Linked DNA regions of Homo sapiens: region 1 is linked to region 2. The links come from fine-mapping of genetic effects on gene expression. A gene starts in region 2. The other region holds a variant in brackets. All regions are shown on one strand. Distances are between the middles of the regions. Region 1 has its middle 59 kb from the start of SLITRK4. Region 2 holds the start of SLITRK4 (SLIT and NTRK like family member 4).

Evidence for each region. PIP is the estimated chance that this variant, and not a neighbour inherited with it, causes the effect. A credible set is the group of variants that fine-mapping cannot tell apart.
Region 1: its variant is the best candidate, but not a certain one, in a credible set for the expression of SLITRK4 in skeletal muscle (GTEx, PIP 0.56).

What each region holds. Positions count from the first base shown.
Region 1 is chrX:143,568,968-143,585,433 of GRCh38, reverse strand. No RefSeq gene overlaps it. Among named protein-coding and RNA genes, the nearest start is that of SLITRK4, 59 kb to the left of the region's middle. The variant C/A (reference allele first, on the strand shown) is at 6,159.
Region 2 is chrX:143,631,055-143,647,520 of GRCh38, reverse strand. It overlaps SLITRK4 (SLIT and NTRK like family member 4), which reads left to right and starts at 11,420. Exons shown (of 2, transcript NM_001184749.3): 1 at 11,420-11,786; 2 at 16,363-16,466. The coding sequence starts at 16,413.

The sequences.
Region 1 (16,466 bases), 62 kb after region 2:
TTTTAAAGGAACTATTATCATTTTATGTTCAGTACACACACACACACACAGACACACACACACACACACACACGAGTTTCCTCTTTAGTATATGTCCTAGATCAATGTGTCTGGTTACTATTACTCTTGGATCTTCTCAACTCTCCTCACCCCACTACAATATCACATCTTTCCCTTCCATCACATTGAAACATCTGAAACAGCTCTCATAAGGAAAATCACAGCATACATTTTGCCAAGCCTATCTTCATCCTGCTTGAATTCAAAGCACCATTTGACATCGCTGACCATTCGCTTCTCTCCTGTCCTGGCTTCTGCTTGCATGTTTTCTTATTTTTCTTTCTACCTCATTAAAAGCATCTTACTCACTCTCTGTCATCTTTTCCAGGCCTCTAAATATGGGAGTTTCTCAGCATTCTGTTCCAGAATTATGATTCCTTATATCTCTAAGAGTAAAACACAAAGGCCTGCAAGACTCTATGCGATCTGCACCCCACTCCCTTTCTGACCAGGTAGATACATTTCTAGGTACATCAGTACTCTCCTGGATATCAATACTCAGAAATACTTGTCTCCACTTACCATCTCCATTTTCTTTCTTTCCATTTTCTCTAGAACCCACCATGATCATGTTTTCATCTGAAGCACGCCACACCACTGAACAGCTGTTGTCAAGGTCACAAGTTACTACCTAGTTGCCAATATAAAGCTTGATCTTCGGTCCTCCTCTCATCCGACCTGTCTGGAGCATTTGAAAAGTTGATCACTCTCTTCTTTGTAAAATACTGATTCACGTGGTTCTAGGACACCACTCATTCTTTTTTCTTTTCTTACCTTACTGGTCTCTCTCGTTCTGTATCTTTTGCTTACACCTTCCCCATCTTCCAGACCACTAAACATTGAAATTCCTAAGATTAGTCCTGGATCTATTTTCTTCTCTATTTATACTCATTTCCTGGGTGATCTTACCCAGTCACATGGCTATAAATATCATCTATATGCTGAAGACTTCCAGATTTTTATCTCCTCTCTGGACTTCTTACCAGAAATACAAATTCATATATTTAACTGCCAACTACACATATGCACTAATAGGCATTTCAAATGTAGTATGTCCATACCAAACTGCTAATACTTTACTCAAAAACTCGCTCCATCTACATTCTTCTCCATTTTAGCAAATGGCTGCTCCTTTATTTTTGTTCAGTTGTTCAAGCCAAATGCTTGGGAGTCAGCTTTGCCTCCCTTTTTATTCCACACCACATACCAATACTTCAGTAATTCCTGTCAGTTTCTACCTTTAAGAAATAAAAATCAAATCAAAATAACAAGAAAACTACAGCAGAATCTAATCTGGCCACTTCTCACCGTACCATCTCCATTGCTTCCACCTTGGTGCAATCATGACCTCTTGCTTGGATGACTTCCAGAGTCTTCTAACTGGCTTCTAACTAGTGTAACTAGTCTGCTAACTGGCTTCTACTCTTGCCTTTCTACAAACTACTCTCTATATAGCAAAGTGATTCTGTTAAAAAGTAAGTCAGACTATGTCACTCCTCTGTTCCAAACCATCCAAGGGAACCGCCCTCATTCAGAGAAAGAAAACAAAGTCTTTATACCAGCTTTTAAAGATTTACCTAATCCAGTCCTTTGTTTCTCTGACCTCATCTTCTATACCTCCTTCTCTTGCTCTCTTTCTTCAAGTCACACTCACCTCCTTGTTATTCGTTGAACTTGAAGGTATTAGGCATGCTACTACCTTACGATATTGTTATTTTTGCTATTTTCTCTACCTGGAATATTGTTCCCACAAATAGTCACATGTCCCACTCCCTTTCTTTCAGGTCTTAATTCAAATATCACCTTCTCAGAGAGACCTTCGCTGATGACTTTATATTAAAAGCATCCTGTCACTTTCTAACCCTATTATGCTGCTTTATATTCTTCGTAGCATTTATCATCAACTGAAATATTACATGTTTATTTGTTTATTGTCTTTCCCGCCTAACTAGAATATAAGTTTATGGAGATAGGATTGCCACTGTTTTGCTTACTGATATATCCTCAATACCTAGAATTCTCCCTGGCATATAGGAGATGCTCACTAAGTACTAGGTCAATGCATGAAACGGACTTTCTTTTCAGTCTACAGCTCTGTTCATAGATTCAAATACCTTCGACGGCACTTTGAAAACAATTCATTTTTCTCGTTAAACCATTTTAGTATTTGTTGAGCTAGGCGCTGAAGCTGCAATAAGAAAAAATAAGGTATTTCTTGCTCTCATAGAGTTAGATCAGTTTCTCACTTTCTTCTTCCCGGTTTCCTCCCCTTGCCACCACTCACACTGAAATGCAGTCCTTCTGTGTTATACACGTTAATACAATGCTATTACTCATTATGTGGCCAGCCAAGTTAAAACCAGAGTGGGTAATTTTATCTCCTTTTTCCCTATACCTTCAAATCCAGTCACTTACCCTGTCCAATCAGTTCTACCTAGTATATCTCTAAGATTTATCATTTCCATTTCACTTCTACTGGCAAATAGATTCCACTTTCTCCAGTCTCACCACGACCTTCTTAGGCTCTCATAATAATCTTCTACTTAAAAACTAGTTCAATAAATTTTCCTGCCTTCTTGCCTGTTCCCCTTCCCTCCAATCTATTTTCTACATTCCAGCCAGGGTGCTCTTTCTCAAATGCAAATACGACCAGTCTCTCCTCTGCTAACTACCCTTTGATGGTTCTCCATTGCTCACAGGACAAAATTCAAATATCTTAAAATGGTGTTTAAGACCTTAAATGATTAGGCACCTACTTACTTCTCTAGCACTATATTTTATTAGTTTTTAAGTCCAGCTCACATATGACTGTCTTTAAGCATCTTCCCAGATCTTCTTCTATTCCATTTACACCACTGGCACAACCTGATCACACTACATTAGAATGAGTAGTGTGCCCAGGAGACTGGCAGTCTTTTCAACTGGAGTGTCAGCTCTAGATACTCACTATGCAATTTCAAATACCTCCTCTGCTGAAATTGTGTTCTCTCCCTTCCCTGACCTCATTCTGTGTTTTCCCTCCTTTCTCTTAACACCTTTTATTCCAGCTAGTGCTGTACTGCTCTCCCCACTACAGACTGAAAGCTCCTGGAGGGCAGGACTGTGTGCCTCCTGCCATAGTCAGGTTTCCAACCTGTGTACCACTGGTCCTGGTGGTTTGCTCAGAGTAGTAGGTACTCAGTCAGTACTTGTCAAATGGGCAGATTGTGCCTATAAATATTTGTACTCATATTGCATTTCTGTCTTTTCCTTTTGATGATATAGTTTCATCATTTACAAGATGCTGTTATGATATTTATGTCTATTAGCCTTTCTGCTAAATAATTGCTTGGCGCTCCCTGTTTTTCTAAATTTGGTAAAAATATCATAAAAAAGCATTTGGTAAATTTCTCACAGAAAGCCAAACACTTTTATGATGTGAGAGACTTGATTTGTTGTATTTATATCAAGTCAATATTGGTTTAATCTTAAATTCACCATTCACCATCTTTTTTGTTTCTCGTTATCAAAACTCATTTTTTATGACTAATTTAATCATTGACTGAACTCACTCAACAGTTGCCCATAGTTACTAAAAGATACAAAATGATACTGTTTATAAGCATTTAGGTCAAAAATGTTCAAAAGAAAAATCAACTAAACTGATACTTTTAATTAGTATTTTGAGGGTTGAGGATTTTTAAAAATTTGTTTTTCACTGAAACTGCTTTGGTAAAAATCAGTACAAAAACAATTGATTTTTTAATTGTCTGGTTTGAAGAGACATGTTGGAGTAACAGAAACAGTCACAACCAAATGCAGCTTCTTCTGGTGGTACACTTCGTTCCATGATGTGGATCAGTTCTAAATATCATTCCAACTATTCTTAGATTCAAGTTATGATACTGTTTTGTTCTTTATATTTGGCTCTGTTTGTAACTCAACAAGTGTCTTGGGTAAGTCCCATGAGTAATAGAAACTGAGAGTAAGCTAGATCAGAAATACTGGATATGGACGATCATTATAAAATGCACATGTTGACTTCTCAAATTATGTCAAGTGACAAGGCTCTTTTTGACACATTAAAGTGATCTGCTCTCTTCAATACTTAATTTATTACTAATGAGGGACTGCAATTGCTTCAAATTAAGTAGCCTACACTTATCATAAGATCTGGCACATTTCTACTTCTGTTTTTAAAAGAATATTTGAAATTAAAAATGTAGAAAATTAGATGCATAAAAATGCATTGTCTAATCAATAACCATAATCATTACCAGCTGTCAAAATGTATCTTAAAATGTTATGAGCTAAATTATGCTGTAAAGACATGCATAATTTTTTATAGAGATTTAGCTGTATTTGTTGACCCATTGATCTCACTCCAGTACAGCATGAACCAAGGAAATAAAAGGGGAACAGAACATAATGGAAGAAAGAACACTTATCCAGGAGGCAAGAAACTCAGCTTAACCATTTATTGGCTGTCTGAATTTGGGCAAGTCACTCTCCACTGTATGTTTCCATTTTCCCACCTGTAACATGAGATGGTTGGACCTGAGCAAAGGTTTCTGACTGCCTGGTAGCCCATGCTGATTCCATGATTCAGCCCATGCTGAAAATTCAATTCAGTTCCGTTCAAGTCAGTTCAATCCAACAATCTTGAGGGACAGCTATTGAAGCAGAAGTTAAAAAGAGAAAAACAAGTTTTCCTATACTTGGCTGACTCACTCCAAGGCCAGCAATAGGCAGGGCCCTGGCAAAGTCTCAATAACACTATCTGGAAAGCCAGAGCCCAAAGGAATGAGCTCCGGAGACTCTCCCAACAAACCCCTCCCCCTCCCTGGAGCAAGGATAAGAAAAACAAATTCCTTTACTATCTCCTCTTCCCCCTTACCATTACTCAGTGTCTCAAGTTTTGTAAGTTCCTGTTTTCCCTTCCATGCAGCTGTAAGGTCACAAGCTATGCTTAGGTTACAAAACCTGTCACAGTTTGATTAACTGCCTTTGTTCTGCTTCTGTAAGCCTGCCTGCCCGCCTCACAGGTTTTGTGCCCTCAGTTTCCTGCCACTGCATTAAAACTAGCCAATTCCCTTTCAGAAGTGTATATAAAAGTCAAGCCCTGTGTTTGTTCAGGGCTCAGCCTTTGGATGTGAATCTGCTGTGCCAGTAGCCACCTAAATAAAATCCTCCTGTTCCACCCATTGGTCTCTCTGGTCTTCTGATTCCCACAACACTACAGCACCATATTATAACATAATACTGCCAAATGTAATATAATATAATATGAACATGATAAAAGTTTTTAAAATCAGATAAGAATTTGACTCAACTTACAATCTATATGATCATAAAGAAGCCAATTCAAGGGAGGTAGAGGAATATGGTGGAATAGAAAGCTTCACTGATAGTTCCCCCAGCAAGGACATCAGATTAACAGCTATCTACTCAGAAAACACACCTTTATAAGAACCAAAAATAAGGTGAGCACTCAGTACCTGGTTTTAGCTTCATATCACTGAAAGAGGCACCAAAAAGGTAGAAAAAACAGCCTTGAATTGCTGATGCCACCCCTCCTCAATCTCTGGCAGTGGAATCCTGGTACAGAGAGTATCTCTGGGCACTGGGGGAGGGAGAACACAGCAATTGTGAAGCATTGAACTCAGTGCTGCTCTGTTAGAGCAGAAAAGAAAAACCAGACCAAACTCAGCTGATGCCTGCCCACAGAGGGAGCATTCAAATCAGCCTTAGCCAGAGGGGAATTTCCAATCCCAGTGGTTCAAACTTGAGTGCCTGCAAACCTTGCCACCCAGGGCCAAAGTGCTCTTAGTCTCTAACTAAACTTGAAAGGCATTCTAGCCCATAAGCACTGCAACTCTTAGGTGAGTTCAAGGGCTTAACTAGGCCTAGAGATAATGGATTAGAAGGCCACATGACATACTGTGACACCAGCTTTGGCAGGCAAAATGTGCTGGCATCACCCCTCCCCTAATCCCAGGCTGCACAGCTCACAGCTCCAAAAAAGACCCTTTTCTTCCTCTTGAGGAGAGTAGAGAGAAGAGTGGGGAGGATCGTTTCTTGCACCTGAAATACCAGCTTAGCCACAGCAGGATATGGCA[C/A]CAGTCAGAGTCAAGAGGCTCCCATTCCAGGCCCTATCAGCCAGATGATATTTATAGATATACCCTGGGCCAGAAGAGAACCTATTTGAAGAAAGGGATCCAGTCCTGCTAGCATGGGCTCTGAATAACCAGCAGTAATATCCAGGTGCTATGCTACATCAAGGGTTTTGGTGAGCCTCTGAGACTTGCTGGCTTCAAGTACCAACATCACCACAGGGGTGTAGAGCAGCAAGTCAAGACTGTTTACTCTTGAATGACATTTCTGGACCTGCCCTGTGACAGAGGGGAGTGCACTGCCCTGAAGGATGAGTCCCAGGACAGACAGCACTCACCACAAGCTGACTTAAGAGACCTTGAGACTTAAGGGAAAATCAGTGGTAGTCTGGCAGTACTCCTTGTGGCCAGGGGTGGCTCCTCTGCCTTTGGAAAAGGGAGGGAAGAGTGGGAAGGACCAAAGCAAATATGGACAAATGGGATCACGTCAAGTTAAAAAGCTTCTGCACAAAAGTTACAATCAACAAAGTGAAGAGACAACCCACAGAATGGAAGAAAATATTGGCAACTACCCTTCTGACAAGGAATTAATAACGAGAATATATAAGGAGATTAAACAGCACTATAGAAAAAAATCTAATAATCTGATCAAAAGATGGACAAAATATTTGAATAGATATTTCTCAAAAGAAGTCATACAAATGGCAAACAGACATATGAAAATGTGCTCAACATTAGCATCAGAGAAATGCAAATATAAACTACAATGAGATATCATTTCACCCCAAATGTCTTGGATATGGCTTATATCCATAAAACAGGCAATAATAAATGCTAGCAAGTATGTGGAGAAAAGGGAACTCTTGGACACTGTAGGTGGTAATGTAAATTAGTATAACAACTATGAAGAACGTTTTGTACGTTTCTAAACCAAGTGATTTGAGAATCACAATGACCAAGAGAGAAATTTCAACTTGGAGACTCAGAGGAAGACACATATATTCTTTCAGTGATCATTTACTGAACTGCATTGTGCTAAGCAGGGGTAAAGTGATGGATAAGAAGAAACACTTGCCTTTCTTCACAAAACCAATGAAGATATTTTGAAACGTTTTTATTCATTGACTCCCGTTAAAAAGCTGATGAAAAGAAAAGATTCTATCCCTAAAAATATGGGCACATGATTTTGCATTTAAGTGTAAAGAGTTCAAGAACTCTTTGGAAATTTATTCTTACATCCCCCAGGCACATGGACTCCAGATTCAAACCTCCTAATTTAGTTGGGGGTTTTATTTAAAAAGGTAGCATTTGAATAAAGTCCTGAAAAATGGTTCGAATTTCAGATGGGAGCAAAGAACAGTGTTCTTGGACTTTGAACCTGTGATGGTTATTATTAAGTGTCAACTTGATTGTATTAAAGGATGCAAAGTATTGTTCCTGGGTGTGTCTGTGAGGGTGGTGCCAAAGGAGATTAACATTTGAGTCAGTGAACTGCTAGAGGTGGACCCACCCTCAATCTGGGTGGGCACCTTCTAATCAGTTGCCAACATGGCTAGGATAAAAGCAACAATACGTGGAAAGACTAGACTAGCTACGTCTTCTGGCCTCCATCTTTCTCCTGTGCTGGATGCTTCCTGCCCTCGAACATTGGACTTCCAAGTTCTTCAACTTTTGGACTCTTGGACCTATACCAGTGGTTTGCCAGGGGCTCTCGGGCCTTTGGCCACAGACTGAATGCTGCACTGTCGGCTTCCCTACTTTTGAGGTTTGGAACTCAGACTGGCTTCCTTGCTCCTCAGCTTGCAGACTACCTATTGTGGGACTTCACCTTACGATCGCGTGAGTCAATATTCCTTAATAAACTCCCTTTCATATAGCCATCTATCTTATTAGTCCTGTCCCTCTAAAGAACCCTGACTAATACAGAACCCATCTTTTCCAGTCTCCTGGCTCATACTGACCACTTGCTTTTGCACGTTTGTTGCCTTGGGACAAAGTGCCTCATTTCTTTTCTTGACATTATCCATGTGTTCCTTGAATTCCGCCTGCTTGCCTGTCTTCTGAATCCAGCTCTTTAGCAACCTCAGGCCTCTGTGCTATCCTAGTCTGCCACCCTCCATCTATGCATCAATGCCCTCATATCTAGTTCCTACTTTTCATTGCTAACAAAGTCTTTGGTCTCCCATTCTAACTCCTATGTTGGCTCTATGATGCACTGCCAACAAATGGCCCAGTGGTACAAGTGAACATAGAGGGAAGAGGTATGTATGAGCAGAAGACCTCTCTCAGATCCAAAGCCTATTCTTAAAAAGCCAGCCTGACCTATCAGTTCTGCTTTTGCACTGCCCCAGGTGTTGATCTCTTATGTCTGTATAGGACTTTATGGCTCACGGAGTAGTAGACTAACTACAGTCACAAATAAATCCCAAATCTCAGTGTGTTAACCCAATAAAGATTAGCATTTTGCTCATGCTTCCGTCCGATGCAGGTAGGCAGAGAGGGGGCTCAGCTCCAAGCATCATTTGGGTGCAAGTCTGACCACGTTCCACACATGGCTCCCAAGACTGCTCTGGGAATTGACATTGAGATGGCAAACAGGGAAGAGAGTCAGTAGCAAGGAAAGTCTGGCAGGAACTAAAACACATCCCATTTCACTGGCCAGAACACAACTATGTGGCCTTTCTAATTGCAGTGGGGAGGCTAGGAAAGGCAGCCTAGCTGTGTGCTCAAGGGGAAAGTGAAAAGATGTTAACACATATCAACTCTGCCACGCATGGCCACTACCATGTTTTGTGTGTGTGTGTATGTGTGTGTGTGTGTGTGTGTGTGTGTGTGTGTTTTGAGACAGAGTCTTGCTCTGTCACCCAGACTGGAGTTCAGTGGTGGGATCTTGGCTCACTGCAACCTCCACCTCCAGGACTCAAGCGATTCTTCTGCCTCAGTCTCCTGAATAGCTGGGATTACAGGCGTGCACCACCATGCCCAGCTAAGTTTTGTATTTTTAGTAGAGATGGGGTTTCACCATGTTTCCCAGGCTAGTCTTGAACTCCTGACCTCAAGTGATCTGCCCACCTTGGCCTCCCAAAGTGTTGGGATTACAGGCGTGAGCCATGGCACCTGGCCGCCTCTCTTATTTTATCCTCCTAAGAACTCTGGGAGGTACATGGCAATAATTTATATCCTCTGTTAATAGATGAGGCACTAGGATCATATTGGTGAAGTCATTTGCCCAAAGCCACACAGCTGGCAAATGGCAGAATCTATGGTCAAACTCAGTCTGTCTGCTCTAGTACTCAAACTCCTCTTATACAACATGACCTATAGGTTATACTAAAATATAATGCCTGCATGTCAGAGGAATTATATCAAAGTGAAATTTGGGGATGACTTACATCAGAAATATTTTAAGGTGTTGTAAGAATGCAGATTCCCTCGTTCCAATTTATACCTAATCACTGATTCAGCATCTAGAAGGGTCGGCTGGAGAATCTGCAGATGATTCTTATATACTTGATACAGTTTGAGACCTCGCTGCCTTAAGACTTTATATGATTTTTCACCTGTATATTTAAAAGAGAACAAATTCATATGGAGCCAAAAAAGAGCCTGCATTGCCCAGTCAATCCTAAGCCAAAAGAACAAAGCTGGAGGCATCACGCTACCTGACTTCAAACTATACTACAAGGCTACAGTAACCAAAACAGCATGGTACTGGTACCAAAACAGAGATATAGACCAATGGAACAGAACAGAGCCCTCAGAAATAATGCCACATATGTACAACTATCTGATCTTTGACAAACCTGAAAAAAACAAGAAATGGGGAAACAATTCCTTATTTAATAAATGGTGCTGGGAAAACTGGCTAGCCATATGTAGAAAGCTGAAACTGGATCCCTTCCTTACACCTTACACAAAAATTAATTCAAGATGGATTAAAGACTTAAATGTTCGACCTAAAACCATAAAAACCCTAGAAGAAAACCTAGGCAATACCATTCAGGACATAGGCATGGGCAAGGACTTCATGTCTAAAACACCAAAAGCATTGGCAACAGAAGCCAAAATTGACAAATGGGATCTAATTAAACTAAAGAGCTTCTGCACAGCAAAAGAAACTACCATCAGAGTGAACATGCAACCTACAGAATGGGAGAAAATTTTTGCAACCTACTCATCTGACAAAGGGCTAATATCCAGAATCTACAAAGAACTCAAACAAATTTACAAGAAAAAAACAAACAACCCCATCAAAAAGTGGGCAAAGGATATGAACAGACACTTCTCCAAAGAAGACATTTATGCAGCCAAAAAACACATGAAAAAATGCTCATCATCACTGGCCATCAGAGAAATGCAAATCAAAACCACAATGAGATACCATCTCACACCAGTTAGAATGGCGATCATTAAAAAGTCAGGAAACAACAGGTGCTGGAGAGGATGTGGAGAAATAGGAACACTTTTACACTGTTGGTGGGACTGTAAACTAGTTCAACCATCGTGGAAGTCAGTGTGGTGATTCCTCAGGGATCTAGAACTAGAAATACCATTTGACCCAGCCATCCCATTACTGGGTATATACCCAAAGGAATATAAAACATGCTGCTATAAAGACACATGCACACGTATGTTTATTGTGGCACTATTCACAATAGCAAAGACTTGGAAGCAACCCAAATGTCCAACAATGATAGACTGGATTAAGAAAATGTGGCACATATACACCATGGAATACTATGCAGCCATAAAAAAAGATGAGTTCATGTCCTTTGTAGGGACATGGATGAAGCTGGAAACCATCATTCTCAGCAAACTATCGCAAGGACAAAAAACCAAACACTGCATGTTCTCACTCATAGGTGGGAATTGAACAATGAGAACACATGGACACAGGAAGGGGAAAATCACACACCAGGGCCTGTTGTGGGGTGGGGAGAAGGGGGAGGGATAGTATTAGGAGATATACCTAATGTTAAATCATGAGTTGATGTGTGCAGCACACCAACATGGCACATGTATACATATGTAACAAACCTGCATGTTGTGCAAATGTACCCTAAAACTTAAACTATAATAAAAAAAGACACTAAAATAAATAAATAAATAAATTAATTAATTAAAAGAGAACAAATTAAAGGTGGTTATAGACAGAAGCATTTTCACTACTTTTTAATTTGGTCTCTGATGGAAGACCTCTAAATCTGACATTGATGATAAAATATTCATTTGTATTTCGATGTTTAAAAACAAAAGGATTTCTTTCTAAAAATAGTCATGTAGGGGTAGGGGAGAGCAAGCGTCTATAGCAAAATCATCATTCAGGTGGAGAGAAGTTTAATAAAACTAGCTATCTCTATTGGCAAAGTGACTAGAGACGTGAATCACATTCTTTGGCAATTCAAGTAAAAAAATATTTCTTTCTTTTGAATTTAGAGCTTTATGTGTAATTCTGAGATAATGCTTTAAATTAAAGATAATTTTAGAATCAATTTAGGGAATAGGTTCTTTCCCCGTCACATTGCCCAAATATTGAATACAGATTTTACTTCACACATAGCATAAATATTGTATGGTCTGTGACATCAGGAGTATAAATATTTCATAATTCAGAAACAGATACAGTAATCACTCATCCAGTTTAATAAGCTTCTCAATTTGTAGCTTTGCATTCCATCCCCAAAATGTGAGACTGCTGATAAGCCTCTTAATTATATTTTATAATATTTCATTTTAGTGTAAAAATTATCCATAATATTTCACTTTCATTCAGAAATCACTATTAATTTAAGGACTGTTAAGTAAGCTATCTAAGAGCTTTATAAATTACTTGGATAATCAAAATATTTGCTTTTCACACTTCAAGGTGGTTTTACACATTAATTGTATTAATTCTAACTTTAGGCTTAAAATATCCTTCTAGTAATTATAATTTAGCGTGAATTATTTAGTCTTTAGAAGAATCACACATAGAGAAATGCTAAGTCATCAAATGGTACTCATGACTTCTTATGGTAGTGACAATCAAGTTACCTCGAATGGTTCTATTTTCTGCCTTAGTAGATACAGGTGGTTTGTTGGTACAACCGAGGCCACATTGGGGGTGTGGAGGGGCCACTCTTCATCTTTTCTGAAGAGGGTGAATGATTGGGCATCCTGATTTGCAGAAGACTGAGGCCAGAGTTTATTTGTAGCACAAGCTAAAACCCCAGTTTTCTGCCTGGTCCTGCCTCTTACAAATTGAGGCCTTAGCATTTCCACTTGGCTTCTAACAGCCTGATAATTTTGAAGGGGTTTTGGGATGGCCTGATTATTTCCGAGTCAGCATTTGAGGCTATCAGGTCTGTTTGCCCATTTCCACTCTTGCAAAGATACACCTGAATACAAATGTAAATATTTCAGTAAATTTTATAGCTGAGTTCCATTTGGTTCTAGTTTATTTGAATCTTACGTGAAGTTGGAGAGGGCACTATCTAGGAACTGCACTGTAGTAAAATGTAATAATCAAGAGCAAATACTTTTAAATTAAAAAGGCTTGGGCTCAAGTCATGGTTCTGTCATTTACGAACGAGGTAACCTTGAAAAATTTACTTAATCTCTCTGAGCCTCCTTTTCTTTGTGTAAATATAAGTGATGATAGAATCATAATATCTATCTAATAAAGCTATTACTGCAATTAAGGATCTGTCTTCTCTCTTAAGGAATCTATCCATCTGTCCATATACACATATAACACACACACATATAGTGCTTCACATAGTACTTGGCACGCTATAAGCACTGAAGAATGAACTATGGCCTGGTGTGGTGGCTCACGCCTGTAATCCCAACACTTTGGGAGGCCGAGGTGGGCATATTACATGAGGCTGGGAGGTCAACACCTGCCTGGCCGACATGGTGAAACCCCATCTCTACTAAAAATACAAAAAATGAGCTGGGTGCAGTGACATGTGCCTGTAATCCCAGCTACTCTGGAGGCTGAGGCAGGAGAATCACTTGAATCCAGGAGGTGGAAGTTGCAGTGAGCTGAGATCACACCACTGCACTCCCGTCTGGGCTACAGAGCAAGACTTTGTCAAAAAAAAAAAAAAAAGAATGAACTGTGACTACATAGGCTAAGTGTAATCTTGTGGACCAGAAGAAGGAAGGTCCAGGACAGTAACTTGAAGCGTAACCTTGACTCAGCTTATCACTCACTAGCTCTGTGACCTATGGTAAAAATAATTAAATTATCTGAGCCTCTTTCTCCTAGCTGTAAAATGGGGCTAAGAACAGTATTGATTACACAGGTACATACGATACTTAACGTAATGTACTTAGAATAGCACCGGACACATACTTAGGACTTATTAGATGTTAGTACAGAGCCAAGAGAATGTGCTTTAGAAGGAAAAAATGGGCCGTGGCGTCAAGAGGCCCAGTTGAATATGAACTGTGAAGTATCCATTAGCTTTAGCATCAAGGATGATGTTGATGACTTTGGAGGAAACTTTTTCAGTGAAGGGGCAGGCACAGCGGGGAGAATGAATGAGTTGGCAGAAAGGAAGTGCAAACCGTAAGTATAGCAACAACAACAACGACTACTACCACTACCATATATGAGGTCTTACTATGAGTCAGACTTCCTTAAGCATTCCTCAGGAATGATGCCATTCACACTATTTCTACATCTTACAGATGAGAAAACTGAGGCTCAGGAGGCTTAAGTAACATGGGCAGTGTTGCAGTTAGCAGGTGCCATAACTGGATTACAAACACAACTTCTTTTCACACCTCCATGCTAGCATAGTGAAATGCTAGAAAGCTTTGAGACATTTATTTAACAGCTTCCACAGATTAGGAGAAACTGTGTATTTTAGTTTTCTTAGCACCAGGGCAAGGAGAAAACACATAAAAAAGTAACCTTCTAACTCAAATAGCTGCATTTCAAGGCTGGGGCTTTGAACCCAGGGTTCTACACATTTGCTGGGATGACTAAAACTTTTCAGATTCCCTCTAATGATGTGATTGAAAGACAGTGCTACTTTAGTTATGGTGCCCCAAACTGACAATGTTTGAAACACTGCCAAACGTTTAGTTGGAATCACAGAGAACAGTCAGGGAAAAAAAAAAAAAAAAAAAAACTCATAGTAAAGATTTTGCAAAAATGAGGCACAGAGTCAGGAAACAGCTGTGTTTTACCCATTTATATGCACTCCTGCTTCCTTAATGTGGATGGATCTTTCTATTTGAACTTCCTCATGCAGTTCCTTCCCAGTTTACTCCAGTCACTGTCTCCATTGGGTACCCAGTCACAGCCTTCTAGTGGCAAAGGTCTACAAGGATGCAATCACAATGACAAGCAGAAAGTCACTGGGAAGCTGCAGAAGGAGAGGGCAGAAGAGCTGTGGTGAACTGGGTACAGACTTCATTCCACTTTATCCACCCACTATCATGCCACACCCTAAACCTCATAATCGTCCGCAATTGCCAACTTGAAATAATAACTTCAAACCCTCCTCTATGGCCTGTGTCAGAAAGTAGAGAGAAGCAGAGACTGAAATCAGACTGATCACAGCTGTGCCACTGCTCAGCTCTTTGACCTTGCACACACAATTTGACCATTGAGTATCTTAGTTTCATCCCATATAAAATATAAAAAATAACAATATATACTCTTAGGGTTATTTTTAGATGTTTGCATAGAACAGTGGCTGGATTATAGTGAGTACTAGCTCTTGCTACTATTGTTCTCTCTCTCCTTCAACACCTGCTTTTTATAACCCATTTGATACCTCCCAACTTTAGACTTTTTCATTTTCTCCCAAACCATCAGTTTTCTTCAGATTTCACCCCATCTTCTATTTTAATCTAGGTACTAGATTTATCTTCTCAATTAGTTACTGTCTAAACCCTTCACCTCCTTGGATCCTTCACTGTCCTGCGTATCATACGGCAAAATTATAACCCTGGATCAATCCAGCTGTTCACAATTGTCTGGCCTCCTGTTCCATGCCCTTACTTCCTCAATCATAGTCAAAGAGGTCTTCACTCTGAGGCAGATCCCAGTTCTTATCCCTCTTCAAATAATTTAATTCACAAGTGATCCCACCTTCTGTATCTTCAACTTGTTTACTAATTTTCTATTTCTTTCTCATCAGAATTTACAATGGCTTAGTTTCTCCTGCTATGGAACAAAGTGCAAAACACCCTCCCCACTACCATGTGTCTCTCTCTAGCTACCAACCTAGGACAGCAATACTTCTAGATTTCACATTTCTAGAATCTAAAAAGAGCAAGTTACACAATGTTGTATTCACATTCTCATTAGCATTAGTTCCTCAGTTAACAGTGGTGTGCATTTTGCCTTTCGTTTTTTCTGACGTTGTCATGGCAAAGTCACCTGTGCCTTATGATGGTATCAAGGGTAGATCGATATGGAAAAATGTTTAATCTCCCCCATAGGGTACAGTATAACAACACCTGGCATGAAGTAGAAGCTCAGTAAATGCTTCTTAGTAGGAAAGAAGATGCACAGTCCAACTTATTAAAACAAAAATGACTTGCAATGTTATTTGTCTTGGGCCCGAGTTGGCATATGAAATTCAGGAAGAAAAAAACCTCTCACTGGAAAAAATGGGGAGGCTGGAGCTGACTTTTATTAGGTAGCAACAACAAATGGTGGCAGTTGGCTTTTTAACGTTATTTTCATTATATATTCGCGAGTAAAATGCTAATTTCTTTAGAAACAGAAGTATAGAGAGTGGCTTGTAATCAAGTTGAATGCATTAAGAGGGATGCCCAGGAAACTTTGTGAACCACAGCTGAAGACACACTCCTTGAAAGCTCTAAAATTTTGTGGGGGATGCGCCATCCCCTTTCACCAATTATTCCTATCTTCTCTCCCTTGCCCCCTTCTCAGATTTGCTTGCTTCCTTTTTACTCATTGACATTCGTGAGTGTTCATCCATCTATTCATGGAGAGGATACCTAGGCTCAGATCCCCTGTGCCGGTGCCACCCCAGCTCCTGGGAATTTTGGCTGCTGGCAGCTCCCAGATGCTTTTCTCAGCTGGAAATTGCCATAGGCCTCCCAGACATGTTTTGCCCTGGGATACTTCCTTTTTAGGGACTGGATGACGGACTACATCTGAGATACAAAGGCCGGTCAGCCTGATACAAAGGATGGGTATTTTTGCTTCAATTTGGAACAACTTTAAAGGGCCATCTCAGCCCTAGATCTCCCAGTGAATCAGATGAGGCACTATTTGCAACCTGATTGCAGGTCAGAATCTCTCACTGCTAACCCTGCCTTTCTCACCCTTTACAGGCCTGT
Region 2 (16,466 bases):
GTATCAGTGCATTCAACCAACTGTGGACACAATGAGATTGCATCTCACGCCAGTCAGAATGGCAATTATTAAAAAGTCAATAAACAACAGATGCTGGCAAGGTTGTGGAGAAATAGGAACACTTTTACCCTGTTGGTGGGAATGTAAATTAGTTCAAGCATTGTGGAAGACAGTGTGGAGATTCCTCAAAGACCTAGAACCAGAAATATCATTCGATCCAGTAATCCCATTACTGGGTATATACCCAAAGGAATATAAATCATTCTATTATAAAGATATATGCACGCATATGTTCACTGAAGCACTATTCACAACAGCAAAATCATGGAACCAACCCAAATACCCACCAGTGATAGACTGGATGAAGAAAATGTGGTCCATATACACCATGGAATACTATGCAGCCATAAAAACAAACGAGATCATGTCTTTTGCAGGGACATGGATGGAGCTGGAAGCTATTATCCTCAGAAAACTAATGCAGGAACAGAAAACCAAACACCACGTGTTCTTACTTGTAAGTGGGAGCTGAACAATGAGAACACATGGACACAGGGAGGGGAACAACACACATTGGAGCATGTTGGGGGGTGGGGTATGGAACGCATCAGGAAAAATAGCTAATGCATGCTGGGCTTAACACTTAGGTGATGGGTTGATACGTGCAGCAAACCACCATGGCACACGTATACCTATGTAACAAACCTGCACATGTACCCCAGAGCTTAAAATATGAATTTCAAAAGATCTTCATAAAAATAACAATAGAACAATAAAAATAATACAGTATAACAACTATTTACATAGCATTTACATTGTATTAGATATTACAAGTAATCTAGAGATAATTTAAAATATACAGGAGAATGGGCATAGGTTATATACAAGTACTATGCCATTTTATGTAAGGGAATTGAGCATCTTCGAATTTTGGTATCCTGGGGGTTCTGAAACCAACTCCCCACAGATACCAAGAGAGGACTGTAATGTTCACACCCCTGAAAACAACATGAGGATCTCTTCCTTTTTCATGATTTGCAAATCAAATTTGAGAAGACCCTTATTGTTTTGGTATCTTCTTCCATTTTATTTCTTTTGCATATGTGAACTACTTCAATTTCTGGCCCTTCCAAATGATTCCATTTCTTATTTTATAGAACATTTCCTGTTAATGTACTTTCCAAATATGCCTGGCACATGGTAAATTTTGACTCTATATTCTGGAGGAATATCAAAAATTTGGACTGTGTCATCTCCAGAAGGACATACAAGTTGTTGACCTTGCCATGTGATGGAAGGCAGTGTTCTGATTTTCTTAATTTCCTTGAATATGTGCCATGGAAGCTTACCATTATTGCCTTTAACTATAGTATTTCACAACATTTTATAAAACCGAGAAATTTAGTAAAGTTTGAGAATGAGCGGTCAGTAGTTAAAGGACATGTTCAATCAATACATTATATAGTATTGTTTATTATAACACAATACATGATATAGTATTGTTTAGTATAACATAGTCTCATCTGCTTTATCACTAAACTAAGTGATCTTGGAGGACAGAGGCAGTTTCCTTCACCTTGGCACCCAAAGTCTGATGAATTATAGGCATTCAATAAAGATTTAATAAACTGTACTTTATGGTTGAGCAGATTATTTGTAGTCAGTCACCTCTACTAAAACTCCATATGTTCTTGAAATTCTTGGAGTTCTTGGAGAACAAAAGGAAAGATAATTTTCTATTACTAGGACAGAATAAAACATGCTCATTTGTTTTAGGTGTACATTTTGATTCTTCCAATGTGCAGCTATCAAATCAACCATTAGGATGGGGATGGCAAGGGCGAGTGGTACTGGTTTGTTTCAATTCTGGAGAGCTTATGTCTATGTGGTTCACAATGTGATATGGCTCACTAGGAAGACTAGGAAGTCTCAGGATTAAATTTGCCCTTTCCCAGAAAAGCTCTGAGTACAAATGTGTTTAATTCAGAATTTTCAATCAGTGATAAAGAGGACAATATGCTTCGTTTTTTAAAAAAAGGTAATTACTTGAAGTGGTTAATGAGTTGACTAAGAACAAAAACCTGCTTGAGAGTTATGTGTAATTTAGATATTGTGTGCACGAGTATGCTGAAATGCCATTTGTTTCTCCTTTATCCATTTTCCCCTGTAGGCTGGTCTGTTCTTGCCACTAGTCTTAATAAATGATAAAATCAGAATCTCAAATGAATTGGAGATACCTTATATAATATTTAATAATGAGCTGAAAAAGAGACCCAAACACATTCACTATTCACTTTTTGAGCCACAATCCAGTTAACCATCAGTCCTTGACCGTCCTTTGTTACTACAAAAATACTGTATGAAACTATCTCCTTACAGAGTTTCCACTGCTTACCAAACTCAACTTGTTTTACAGTAAGACACCCTTACCTCGGAAATTTCTCTTTTACAAAATCTGACAACTTTTTACAAATGCTTTTAAACCAAAGAGAATTTGTCAATATATTTAATTTCGTGTTTAAATTTTGGTAGTAACTTTGAGACCGTCAAACTATCATGTAAATCTTTCTGTTCGCAAGACATAATTGGAGAAAAGATCAGCACAACTCTGGCCACTCACTAAATTTTATATTGGAAAATGGCGTTTCTTTGACCTTTGTCCAGATATCCTCTTAAAGTATACAAGGAGGGGTAGGAATGGAAGATAAGAGTCCCAGAACCATGGTCCCCTCACAGGGATAGCCTGCCATATGTCACAGAGGACAGATTCTCAAGGAGAAAATCTGGATGACTGTCAACAAAATTCCTCTCCTTTCAAGGCTCAGGAAACTCACATCTCAAAACACAGGCAAAGAAATGAAAGGAATAATCATTATATGGTCCATTTGTGATTTTTTTTCATTGCCCTGAGTGGCTGAATCCTGTAGTTTGGCTTTCTGGATATTTCTTCATCCATAAAGATAATAAAAATGAAATTTCATAGAATAGCTTCAGCTATAAATGGAAGTAAAATGCCCAAAAACTTGAACTATATGGGGAAAAAAAAAAGTTGTCTAGAGGCCATCCTTAGAATATTTTTTTTTAACCTTAGAATTGTTTTACTAGAGAAGGTATAAATAGAATCGAGATGATGTAAGTTAGATGTCAACATTTCCAACAATGAATATTGTAAGAAAAGTCAATTAACAATGGATACAATAGGCACTATATCTGTCTGAATAGTTATTAGATGATTGAGATTGAATTAATTTACACATAATTTATCACACGAATGTGATCTTAGGTATAATTGCATCACACCTTGTCAGATCTGACTTGCTTTTCTCTAAAAACAGCATATGCTACTCTTATGACAAAATAATCTTAGATAGAACAATACTAGTTCTTCAATGAGAACACATGGACACGGGAAGAGGAACATCACACTCTGGGGACTGTTGTGGGGTGGGGGGAGTGGGGAGGGATAGCATTAAGAGATATACCTAATGCTAAATGACGAGTTAATGGGTGCAGCACACCAACATGGCACATGGATACATATGTAACAAACCTGCACGTTGTGCACATGTACCCTAGAACTTAAAGTATAATAATAATAAAATAAATAAATAGAAAAAAAGAATACTAGTTCTTTAAGTCATTAAGTTTCTAAAAATATACATTTCCACTGGCAAAATGATAAAATTAGTGCCCCCAACTCACTTGAACTTTTTTTGCACATATATTACAAACAATAAAGCTATATACACGTTGGTTCATTTTTTTCCTTTCCTTTCTCTTTTCCTGTTTGCTTCCCTAAAAAAAAACCAGTGATAAGATTCAGAAAAATATATTTTTAACATTCTTTCCAGGGCCATTATGAGGAACTTTGTTGCAATAATGATAATACCCACTTTTCGTGGGTCTGACATGTAGAGGATGAGATTCTAGGTTAGTCTGGCAAGCAAGGCACGTACGATTATTTTAAAAAATAGTAATGGAGTCTGCAATCCTCAATTCTACAGAGATTGTTGTTAAAATTAACTTTTAAAAAAACTAATAATATGTGAAATGAGAATAGAAAAGTAAGTAAAGGATACCAGGTGGGGTAAGAACAGGTGGATTTATTTTTAAATAATAGTTCTAGCTTTTGAAATAAACAAAAGATACACTGAATTAATCCAACCACTCTCTTCTACTCGCCATCCTTAGACTCGAGAAGGGAAATAATACATGGTCTGAATTATTTGTTTTTTTGTATATGTGGAAGTCTTTTCTGTTTATAAACAGAAGGAAATAAAAATATTCTGCCAGAAAGACACAGTGCTAGGTGTTTGTCAAACATTATACTTGTTAATCCTCATAAACTCAGGACTATTGAGTTTGTCCTGCCCACTTTACAGAAAAGGCAATGAAAGCGCAGAGAAGTTAACTGCCCTAACTCACAGAACTATTAAATAGTGAAGCAAGAAATTAACACCAAGTTCATCTGGTTCCAAATTTCACACTCCTGAAACCCTGATAGATCTAATTTTATGTTTCCTGAATATTTACAAAACAGCAACAATTTCAAAAATTCTGTAATTAATTTTCTGAATAATTCACTGGAGAGCTTACCCTCAGTGAGCTCCCCATGACTGGGTGTATTCAAGCACTGAGTGTTCATTTGATAAGATATCAGTTTTGTGAGTGCTTAAACTAGAAGAACTTTGAGGTTCCTTCAAACCCTGTTTCTAATTGATAACCAAACTGTGCACCTGAAAGAGAAGAAATTCTCTGTGATGACAATTTTTCCTATACCCTGATCCCTTTACATGGGACCTGAGGACTGTTTACTCACGGCAACCTTACGTGGGTAGACATTACTCAATTTGAGTCAGAGTTGGGAATTAGCAGCTCCAAATTCAAACTGAAAAAGAAGGTAGTCAATCACAGATGCATGACACTAGCTTACACAGATGTTCTGCTTTCCTCTGACTCACTCTTTGAGGCTTGGAAAGGGATAAACTTTATTTTAATATAGCAATTGCAATACAGTCATACCATAACTCATATTTTTATATTATGCCTTTTCTGCCTTGTTTTATGCCTCCGGTTTTGACCCAACTTTTGAATTGTTCAAGAGCCTCTAAAACAAAGGAGGAGGAGCTGAGAACAAGATCAACTTTTTATTTTTTTTATTTTTAATTTTTGTGGGTACATAGTAGGTATATATATTTATGGGGTACATGAGATGTTTTGATACAGGCATGCAATGTGAAATAAGCGCATCATGGAGAATGGGATATGTATCCCCTCAAGCATTTGTCCTTTGAGTTACAAACAATCCAATTACTCTTTAAATTATTTAAATGTACAATTAAGTTATTATTGACTATAGCCACCCTGTTGTGCTATCAAGTAGTGAGTCTCATCCATTCTTTCAAGTTATTTTTCGATATTATCTCACTCCAGTTAAGATCACTTTTGAAAGAAAGATTTAAGTTTATATTTCTAAGGAAAAGTAATATTGTTATAAAAGCATTGAAAAAAAGACCCTCAATGCTTTTGCAAAACAATAATGTTTTGCTAGCTAGGGACAACACTGTGGTTCCCGAGATAGAGTGGAACACGATAAAAACAGAAAGATTTTTATCAACTTACTATCTCTCTGATAAAGCTTCAGTTGGTGTTATGGAACTTTTACAGCCCATAAGAGTAATTCTCACACTAGACTGTTTAGCTATTAACTTCCTATTTTTTATTTTATGATCTTTATTATCTTTGAGTTGTCTGAGGGCTGTTGAGCTTGTGGCTGGGCCCTAATCTTTGACAGTGAGATTTCTCCAAGTTAGAGAATATATAGAAAAGAGACACTATTTTGTCAGCATCCCTGGCTTAGCAATATTCTAAACCACATAGGTAGTTCTAGTTAGCCATAGGGACAAGTACCCATTAGGGGCCAAAGTTACAAAGACCCTGCAAAACAACATACCCCTCTTTATTATTATTCTAGAAATAATAATTTCTGAGTGAAGTGTTATTTGAAAAATTAGCCAATGCCTTGCTACACAGACTGTAATACATTCACACCTGATGCCTGAGTTTCTGAAAAGGACACCAGGTTACCAGCTGTACTATAAAGAAGTCTGAGCAAAATGGAAGGTCAGGTTAATTGATATAACCTAATCAAATAATCAACTAGTCTCACATTTTCCAATTCATTTGGTATCCTATTTTATAACAATCCTTTTGTCTTAACTGGAATAAGTCTAGGGATGAACACTACTGCTTTGCTTGGTGTGGTGGTTAATAATGAGCGTCAACTTGATTGGATTAAAGGATGCAAAGTATCGATCCTGGATGTGTCTGTGAGGGTGTTGCCAAAGGAGATTAACATTTGAGTCAGGGGGCTGGGAAAGGCAGACCCACCCTTAATGTGGGTGGGCACCATCTAATCAGCTGCCAGGGAATGTAAAGTAGGCAGGAAAATGTAAAAAGGTGAGACTGGCTTAGCCTCCCAGCCTACATCTTCCTCCCATGCTGGATGCTTCCTGCCCTTGAACATCAGACTCCAAGTTCTTTAGCCTTGCGACTCAGACTGGATTCCTTGCTCCTCAGCTTGCAGACAGCCTAATGGGGGACCTTGCGATCATGTGAGTTAATACTACTTAATAAACTCCCATATATATATATATATATATATATATATATATATATATATATATGTATATATAAAATATATAAGTGTGTGTATATATATATGTGTGTGTGTGTGTGTGTGTGTGTGTGTGTGTATATATATTAGTTCTGTCCCTCTAGAGAACACTGACTAATACACATGGCTTCATTTGGTGATAGTGAAAGTGATTATCCCTAATAAGGAACATTTGAGACATCATCACAGATTCAGAATCAACTCAGGTATGAGAGTTGAAAGAGCAGAATGGATAGAACAAGGCTACTACTGGCAAAAGGTAAAATCAGTTGATTCAAGAGACCTTGTCATGCATAATTGATGTGAACTGTTTTTAATGTCATTTATTTGTTTATTCCTGTGCTGAGTATTCATACTTTAATACTTGAAAACATTTATGTCTCAAGTATTCATCTTTGGAAAATTTATTCTGCTTTCAAATCTATCCCTTTCTCTTTTTTTGAGACAGGGTCACTCTGTCGCTCAGGCTAGAGTGCAGTGGCTTGATGATGGCTCACTGCAGCCTTGACCTCCTAAGCTTGAGCGATCCTCCCACCTCAGCCTCCCTAGTACCTGGGACTACAGGTGCACCCCACGATGCCTGGCTATTTTTTTAAATTTATTTTTTAAAGAGATGGCTTTTCACCTTGCTGCCCAGACTGTTTGTCTTGGCATCCCAATGTGCTGAGAATACAGGCGTTAAGTCACCCTGCCCAGCTTTCAAGTCTATTCTGCTTTCAAAGTTAAAAATTCCCTAATCCCCCTGTGAAAACGAAAATGTGGTGTACTGGAAAAACCTCAAAGATCTGGGGTCAAATCTTGACCATCACTTACTCACCATGTGACCTCGGGCAAACTGTTTACCTTCCCTGAATTTTATTTTATTTTATTTTATTTTATTTTATTTTATTTTATTTTGAGAGAGTCTCAGTCTGTTGGCTGGGCTGCAGCGCAGTGGCATGGCCACAGCTGATGGCAGCCTTGACCTCCTGGGCTCAAGTGATCCTCCCGCCTCAGCCTTCCAAGCAGCTGGGGCTACAAGCATGTGCCACCATGCACCACTGATTTTTGTATTTGTTGTAGAGACGATTTTTCCCATGTTGCCCAGGCTGGTTTTGAAATCCTGGGCTCAAGTGATCTCCCCACCTCAGCCTCCCAAAGTGCTGGGATTACAGGAATGGGCCACCATGCCTGGTCACTTAACCTCATTTTTAAAATAAGTATGATAATCCCTTCCTTGTTCATAGAACTAAATGAAATAATATTTGTAGGCAGCACAGCAAAGAAGAGGCACTCAACAGACAGTAGCTACTATTGAATGGGTTAATTATGATCTGAAAACTTCCTTTCATGTTCTAAATTCCAGAAAATTTGTAAAAATGGGCTATTAGTATGTTTTTCAAATTATATAGATAGAAAAAAGGGTTCCATTGTTAAGTAAGTCTGTGAAATGCCACATGCCATATCCCTTTTCCCTTGGTAAATAAAAGCTCATTTAAACATAATTAATTGTGTTGAAAAATCCCAAAGTAAAAATAAAATGTTTAGCTTTACGGAACCAAGGGTCTTTTAAACTTATTTGATCATGGAAACATTTCTTCCCAGAAGATATATTAACATCCTAAGAACTTTCTTGTATTCCACTTAGAGAAATAGCAAGTGTGTGACCGGACACGGTGGCACACGCCTGTAATCCCAGAACTTTAGGAGGCCGAGATGGGCGGATCACCTGAGGTCAGAAGATTGAGAACAGCCTGGACAACATGGTGAAACTCCATCTCTACTAAAAATACAAAAATTAACCGGGCATGGTGGCACATGCCTGTAATCCCAGCCACTCAGGTGGCTGAGGGAGGAGAATTGCTTGAACCCAGGAGGCAGAGGTTGCAGTGAGCCGAGATCACACTAACGCACTCCAGCCTGGGTGACAGAGTGAGACTCTGTCTCAAAAATAAATAAATAAAAATGAAAGAGAAATAGCAAGTTTGTAACTGTTAAAATGCCAGAATATAAATAAATCTTCAATATTAAAATACACTGAATCATCTGTGATACCTGGATACGAAAATTAAGGCTGATTTGATTTTGAGCAGCAGCCTAAGACAAGGCAAGATAAATGAGGAATACAGTGAAAGTGAAAGACCGCTGACTAGGGCCAAGACTTGGCATTATAATCACTTTCGGTTGGTAGTGTTTTAATGACTTAATTCCAAACTGCCTTCGGAACGGAGGGTATACAGGATCTTGTTGAAATTCTTAGTGCAGTTGTTTTTTTCCCTGATGGAGGGAGACACAGTATATCAGTGTAGACCTACGATTCTGGTTGTACTCCTAAAAAGTCAAGATGAAATAAGGTAAAACATTTGGAGGAAGACCGTGAGAGTATTGCAAAACTCACAATATTTGCATGCTTACATTTTAGGAAGAACATCAATTTTGTTTTTCTTTCAATGGCCATAAATAGTGCTGGAGTTTTCTTAACACTTTTATTTATGTATATATTCACTTCCTTTGTTAAGCTAGCAATTCTGTGTCATTTCCTACTGTTCTATTGGGATGTCACCTGTAGTTCTAGGGGACGGAAAAGGGACTGTGGGACTAAAGGATTGGGTTAATTACTTTGAAAGCAAAATAAGCATAAAACATGGAAGTTGTTACTTCTGTTTTATTTTATGAGTGTCCACTTTATCTTTTTAAGTAGCAAAACATTTTATTTTAAAGCATTCATTTAAAAAAGTTGAATATTAATCACAGATAAGTTCTTAGGAATATTATGAATTGTAATTTATCGATGATCTAGCTACAGTGGCTTTCAGATTTGTCTCCATATCCATATGAAAAATAACATTTCACAGTTATTGCAGTTAAATATAGCCAAGTCTCAGAACAGTTTCTAAAGTTGAATAAAGATAGGCATTTAAATCATCTGATATTTACTGTCCAAATCTGGCCTTTTCAGTTATCACATTACTTAGAATTTTCAGGTAAACTTTTTTTGCTCATTCTATTGACTCTTGTTAACATTTGTAGTAAAAGACAAACATTTCACCTATCTGGATAAAATATATTCAGCTTCCTGAATTGTTAGCATTTAGAATAAATGCCAACTTGTTTTGATACCCATTACTACTTTCAAACTGCATTACACAATAAAATGCAAATGTGAGTTATTAATTAGCAGGATCTGTTTTGTCCAAGTGTGCAAGAGTAGAGGGATTTTTCAACATTCTGCAGCTGTTACCTATGAAGGAAACATCATTCACTTTGCTAAAAGGAGCTGCACAATTACATACGCTGTTATAGACAAATATTTTAGTGTTTCCTTAATGCTATTTCATAATGGATTTCACATTGAATAAGATAAATTTTACCAATGCTGCCCAATTTCTGTCTCTAGGTTGTTTGTAAAAGAGAGGATGATTACAGTTTTCAAGGCAATGTGGAGTGAAGGTAGAGAAAGAGTTCTTCATGAACGACACAATATTTAGCAAGGTCATAAAGAAATATGCCCATACACGCATATCTATTTAAGTATTCATTTACATATTGTACGTGCATCTCTGTATACATGTTGTGCCCGGTGAACATTTGTGTGAATATAACCTGACGGAAGTCCCATAAAATGACAAAAAATGAAAAACAATGAAACATGTATATGAATGACTACTATAGATGATACAGAAGGTAGACCATTATTCACAAATAATGTAATAAATCCTTTGCCCATCAGATGTTTCTACCTAGATTTGGGGCCTTTAAACATCAACCAATTATGGTAAATGTTTAACTGTAGGAGTTCAGGCAGACAGCCAAATTCTGGTTTCAAAGCTGTTGCTAGTTTTAGCTTAAAGATTTTTTTTTTCATTTTTAAGCAAGAACATTTCTGGATACCGGTTGTGCTCTATTGTGGCTAGAGCCGCTGGGATTTGAATAAGTAAATTGGGCAACACACTGGTCCTGAAGAAATGGGCCTGGCAGTATTACCTGAATGTGGCAAATAATAGGCTACCAAGAGTCCTAGGGAAATACTTCCCATTTATAACTTAGCTCTACTTACCTAAAGCTAGTTTATTCCCACAGACACGAAGAGAGAGAGAGTTGTTTTTCTTAGCCAAGCTCCTACAAAAAACAGCAAGGTTGGGGGATGGGAGCACATCCAATGTTTATGCCTTTTGTTTAGGAAAGCCAGGTATCTGAAATACATACATGATAGCCAACTCCTCTCTGCTCCCCTCCCCCAGGTTTATTTATTTTCTTAACAAGCTTATTAACGAAATTATCAATTTGCATGAAACTGGTTTGAACATTGGCCCTTCCTCAGAATATTTCTTATCTCTTGTGGAAGCACTAACAAAAAGGGTAGAAGAAGGGGCCTAGACAATCCACACGTTGGATTTGCAGCCACTGGATATTTCAGATTCAGCTGCTAAAGCCTCTTTGGTATACACAATGAGGGGCGACTGAAGTGACTTTTCTTAGTCCATTTCCTCTCCTTCTCCCCGTCTCCCGAAGGTACTCCGTGGGTCCCTTCCCTTTCTCTCTTCACAGTCCCTCCTGAGCAGTCCCAAAGCTTCAAACCTTGTTCTCCAACCCCCTTTCCCTAATGTCTCCCAACTACCACCCCCTTCCCCAGTCAAACTCCCCTCCCGGTCACCACCAAAGCCCGGAGAAGTGGAATGCACACAATGCCTCCCTTATAGGGCTTGAGCTGGGAACTGGGCATGCTCAGTAGCCAAAGTAGTTTTTTTTTTTTTTTTTCTTTTGGTCGCAAGTGCGGCATCTCTCCCAGTCCCACGCCTCTCTTTCCTCAACCCCTATCCCCTATCCCCTATCCCCACCCCCAGCTCCAAGATCATCCGGCTTAACCCATTCTGCACCAAAGGCCCACGGAGTTCTAAGGTGCGGATAATTAACCCGTCTCCTTCTAACCCGGCTAAATAGTCTCACTTTAGGCTAAAGCCTCACACTTTCGCCTTAAAGCCCCTGGCCCCTTACGCGCAGACAGGTAGGGGGAGTGCGAATACTACTGGATCCTAGGAAATTGGTTCCCAAGAAGGCTCCTTCCAGGATCGACCGCCACGGAGAAGTATTCCAGGAGCCCTCCGTTCTGCGGGGTGACAATTAGCCAAAGGTACCGTACCCGTGATACAAAATCCAAGTATGATTGTTGCATTTGAATGTCATTGTTGTTGACTCATTCCCCTCCATCCTGTAATTATTCAATTCCGCGTAGACTCGACGACCCTATCGATCTCCCTCGGCCCCCCTCCCCCAGGCTCTCCAGTGTTTCTTTGGCTTTTCCTGGCTTCTTGGTTGCTCTCTCAAAGGAATGCCCCGTGTGTGTGTGTGTGTGTGTGTGTGTGTGTGTGTGTGTGTGTGTGTGTTCCTTCGTTATTAGGGGACTGGAAGAGAAGAAAAGGGCTCGAGTGTGTGTGTATGTGGTGGGGGGGATGGAGGCGAGTGCGCCCTTGTTAGAGGACTGGGGTCTCCACGCCTGAGGAAAGGGGTCGCTCCTCCCTAGGGAATGTTTTAGGCAAAAAGAGGGGGCGGATGCCGGGAGGAAAGCGCGCTGTCTTTCTGGGTGTGTGGGTAGAAGAGGAATCAAATGGGCATGTCTGGATGGGGGACGGGGGTAGGAGCTCAGGAATGTGAGGGGGTCAAAGTGGTCGAGTGTCGGGAGGAAGGACTGCTTGTGTGCGGGGTGGGGGGGGGTGGTGGAGAGCGGGGGCGGGGATTCAGCGCGTGTATGTAAAGGTGCAGCCCGTGTGCTAGGCGCTGGGTGCGCGCGCGGTGTCTGCTCGGGTGCGCGCGCGCGCCGCTGCCCGCCTGCCCGCCGGCCCGCCTGCTCGCCTGCTGGGGCTGCTCCGTGGGTTTGACGGGCGAGCGGGCGCGGAGGAGCTCTGTCCGGAATCACATAGATACCATCGTGGAAACAGCAGCGCAGGTCACGGCGCCGCGGGCCCTGCACCAGACGCTGGGCTCTAGAGGTGGGTGAATTTTCAGCGGGGGCTGCACAAGCTGCACCGACACGCGTGCTGCCTCTTCCCCGCTCAGCTCAGTAGCGCGTGTGCGTGCGTGTGTGTGTGTGAGAGAGAGACAGAGAGAGAGAGAGAGATCTCGCGCGCGCGCACGCGAGCCGAGGGGGCAGGTAGCTTATTATTTTTAGTTTGGGTCCTGTTGGTTTGGGGCCGGTTGAGTGGCCAAAGTGGCCGAGGTGGCTAATCCTGCCCTCCACCTCCCACTTGCCTGCCTACGACGCGGTCTCATGCCGCTGAGGACCGGAAAGGATCCGGGTGTCCTTGGCATCGCTGCCCGCCCCCCCCCCCACCATACCCCAAGCGGCCAGGGCGGCGGGGCAAGTTGTACAGGTCTCGGGTGGCTCCGGCTGTCGGGCCGCTGGGCTGGGTTGGGCTTTATTTTTGCACCCCACTCGCAGCCACTTTCCGCAGACGTGGATCTGAGGCTCGGGGCAGTGGCCCGCGGGTTGGTCGGAGATTGCTAGCGCTCGGCAAGACTAGGAATACCAGAGGAAGAGCCGGTGGGTAACTCTAAAAGCTCTGCAAAGCCAGGCGAGCGCTGCCAGCGCGACTTTGCAAGGGGCCTAAATGTTGAGCTGATTTCTGGCATGGTGAGAGCAGGATTTTTGTAGCTGGCCAGGGAGGGAGAACAGGCAAGGGGGAGCCTGGGCCGCCGCTCGCAGCCACAAAACCACAGGGTCACTCTGCCCGTGGCAAGCAGGTCAGTGACTCCCTAGTGCCAACGTCTTCGAGGCGGCCTGATCTGGCCTCTCTTCCTCCTCACCCACCGCACGCCTGGGTCTAGAGAGGTCCACTGAAACTCCGGCAGCTGCCCCTTGTGGGACGGGAGCGCGCGGAGAAATGTGTGAGCGGCGGGACTGAAGGCCCCCGCGACATCCCGCGCGGTACCCCGCCTCCGCTACACGGACCGCCAGGCTGCTGCTTGGGCCCCTGACGCGGAGGGGGCTGAGCGGCCGGCTCCGGGAACAGGGATGCGGCAAAACATTGCGGTACGCGCTAGCAGCCCCTCCAGCCTCCTCGCCGCCCGCCCGAGGTAGCGCACCCGGGCGGCAATGGCCGGGTCTCTCCGCGAACCTCTTCCACCTCCATCCGAGCCTTAGGCGGGCCAGCGGGGTTTCCCGAGGGAGCTCTCGGGGAGCCACCTCGGCCCACCGCCCTGAAGCCCATCAGTGTTCTGCCCCCCTCAGGCCGCTTCTCTCCTCCCAGTCGCGGAGTGCCAGGCGCTGCACTCCGGTGGATGCAGGATTTGTTTTTGGTCGGGCTAGGTTTGTTCAGTCCTGGCTGGTCGTGAGAGCCAAGGGTCTTTCAGGGCACCGAGAGGAAGACGGACAGCTCCCAGCAGCCACAGAGAAGGCTCTTGGTACCCAGCTGGTACTTTGTGGGCTTTTTCTTTTCTTTTTTGCGTTTTTCCCTTGATGTTTAAATGTGCATGTTTCAGTGGTACCACCGGAGTGTGAGGCTTTATTCGCATACATTCAGTGCTCCCTTTACCCTCTTTGTAGCTCCCTTCTCCGAGTTCTTTTTCTTCCTTTCTCCACATTTCCATGGTCTCTTGCCCTTTCAGTACCTCTTTTCCTCTCTCCTTGGTGGACCAACTGGACTCTTTCTCTCTCTTGCCTGCCCCTCCAGCTGCTTGTGGCTTCCTCTGTTTCACAAGAGCTGCATTTGGGAACTTCCTGGCTCTTACTAGTGCCTTTTCCCCCCCTTGCTACTTAAAGTAGCAATCACCAGGAGGAGGGCAGCTCCTTATGCATTTTCAGATGTGTTGAGATTCCTGGTTCTTGTTTTTGTACTGAATTCGGATTATAAGGATTTTTTTTTTTCTGCGTTTGGTTTTTAGTTTGGTTGCTTTTGGGTTTCTTTGTTTTGAGGTGGGTGGGGTGGTGGTTTAGTAACAAGAAATGACTCAACTGAACCAAAATAGCTGTTGAAAACCACATTCATAACAAGGCAAAAAATATCAAGTGAAATTTTGATTTTACAATGAAAGTTGCTTTAGGTGATGTCATAGTTAAGAATTATGACTTCTTTTTGCAATGCCAATCATGCTCTCATGGTGAATAGGGGAAATGCACGTCTATATGGCAGCCAAATAGCATCTCAGCAGTGCTGGCTGTATTCTGAACCAAACTACTTAAAATGCAAATCCTCCTGGGTCATGGCTAATGGGTTGTCTACCTTGAGACATGTTCGGTTTTACCACTAGCTGATTCCTCGTGGGTAAAATAAACAAAGGAGTTTCTGTGCGACACTTCTTTCTTTGCATCATTTCCTTGTTGTGTGTTCCTGGGTATTTTATGTATTTAATTAATATTTGGAGATAACGATATTGAAATTGCACCCAGCTTCCCATTCACAATGGAAAAGACTAATATTGCTAAAATAGTATCAATAAAATGCACTCTGCTTGTGTTGTTTAATCTTTTCCAGGAAGCATCGTGTATGTTTGTGTATATATGCAGTATTTAAGGACCTGAAAACGATGAGTTATTTTGCTAAGCATTAAACTCTACCAACAAGTGATTCTTTATGCGTTTACAGTCAGGGACATGGGGTGGTAATATTAGGAAGGGCGGGTGGGTGTTTGGAACTGATGATTTTAGGACGAAAAATGTGCTGTACTGAACATATTTGGTGCTGTAGCAAAAGCTACTCAAAGATTGTGTTGTGTGAACTCCCCTTCCTCAGCAGTTGCAGTCTGTGGTCAAAGTGAAAGAGATAAAGCAGTTAAGCCGAGGATCAGTCGGACCTGGGTTCAAAATGGTAAATAAAGATGTGGGAGAGGGCCAGGGAGGCAAGAGAGCCAGTTCTCAAAGTGGAAAGACTGCCTGGAGATTAGCTAAGCAATGCAGGAGTAAGCAGGTTACTCTGCTGCTTTCAGAGGCTCCAAGACAAAAGGCTTTTTGCTCCCTCTTTGGGAGATGACTGACAGGAAATTAGAGACTGTTTATTTACCAGAAAATAAAATTTGGCCATCCCTTACTCAGTTGTTTTTCTAGAACCGCACAGCGTCGTCTGTGTCTTTGAAGGCAGCAGTGTACAGGAGTAAACCGATTGACAGCAATGAACTTACCTATGGGGCTACAGCACAAGCAAATCTCTTCCCAGGTCACTGTTCCTTAGTCTTTTAACAGTCCCTGCTACAGCAGCCCAATCCTCCCATTTCCATCCTCCAGTGAACTCTGGGCTCTAATGTTTTTGTTTTTGTTTTTTTAATTCAGCCTCTCTATCTAGCTGAAGCTTAGAGAATAGATATCCACTAATCAAAATGGCTTTGTGGTACAAACTCGATGGCATACTTGATGGTCTCGGTCATTTGAAGTGCAAGTAGGAAGCTTAAGGCCTGTGTTCAAGGGCAGAGTTTGACGGTCCACGTGGAAAAAATATTTTCAGATTGCAAGATTTAAGCATGATTGATAATATATTTTCCTACTGTTAGTTGTGTGTTCTGCACATGTGAATTTGGTATAAACCACAGGTATGGAAAATAAAATGTATGGCAGTTTTAGTGGTTATTATTGTTCGACTGAGTGAGACTATTTGGAGGTTTGATTGCCTTACAAATACAACTCTGGTAATTATAGCCATGTGTTCACTATGGTATGATTTACATACAAGTAATTTTTCAAGTAATGACCATTGAAAAAATGTTTTCTTTTTATTTTTTAGATTATTTCTCTTTATTCAGAAGCATACAGTTGTTTGCTGATTGCAAGAAGATGTTTCTGTGGCTGTTTCTGATTTTGTCAGCCCTGATTTCTTCGACAAATGCA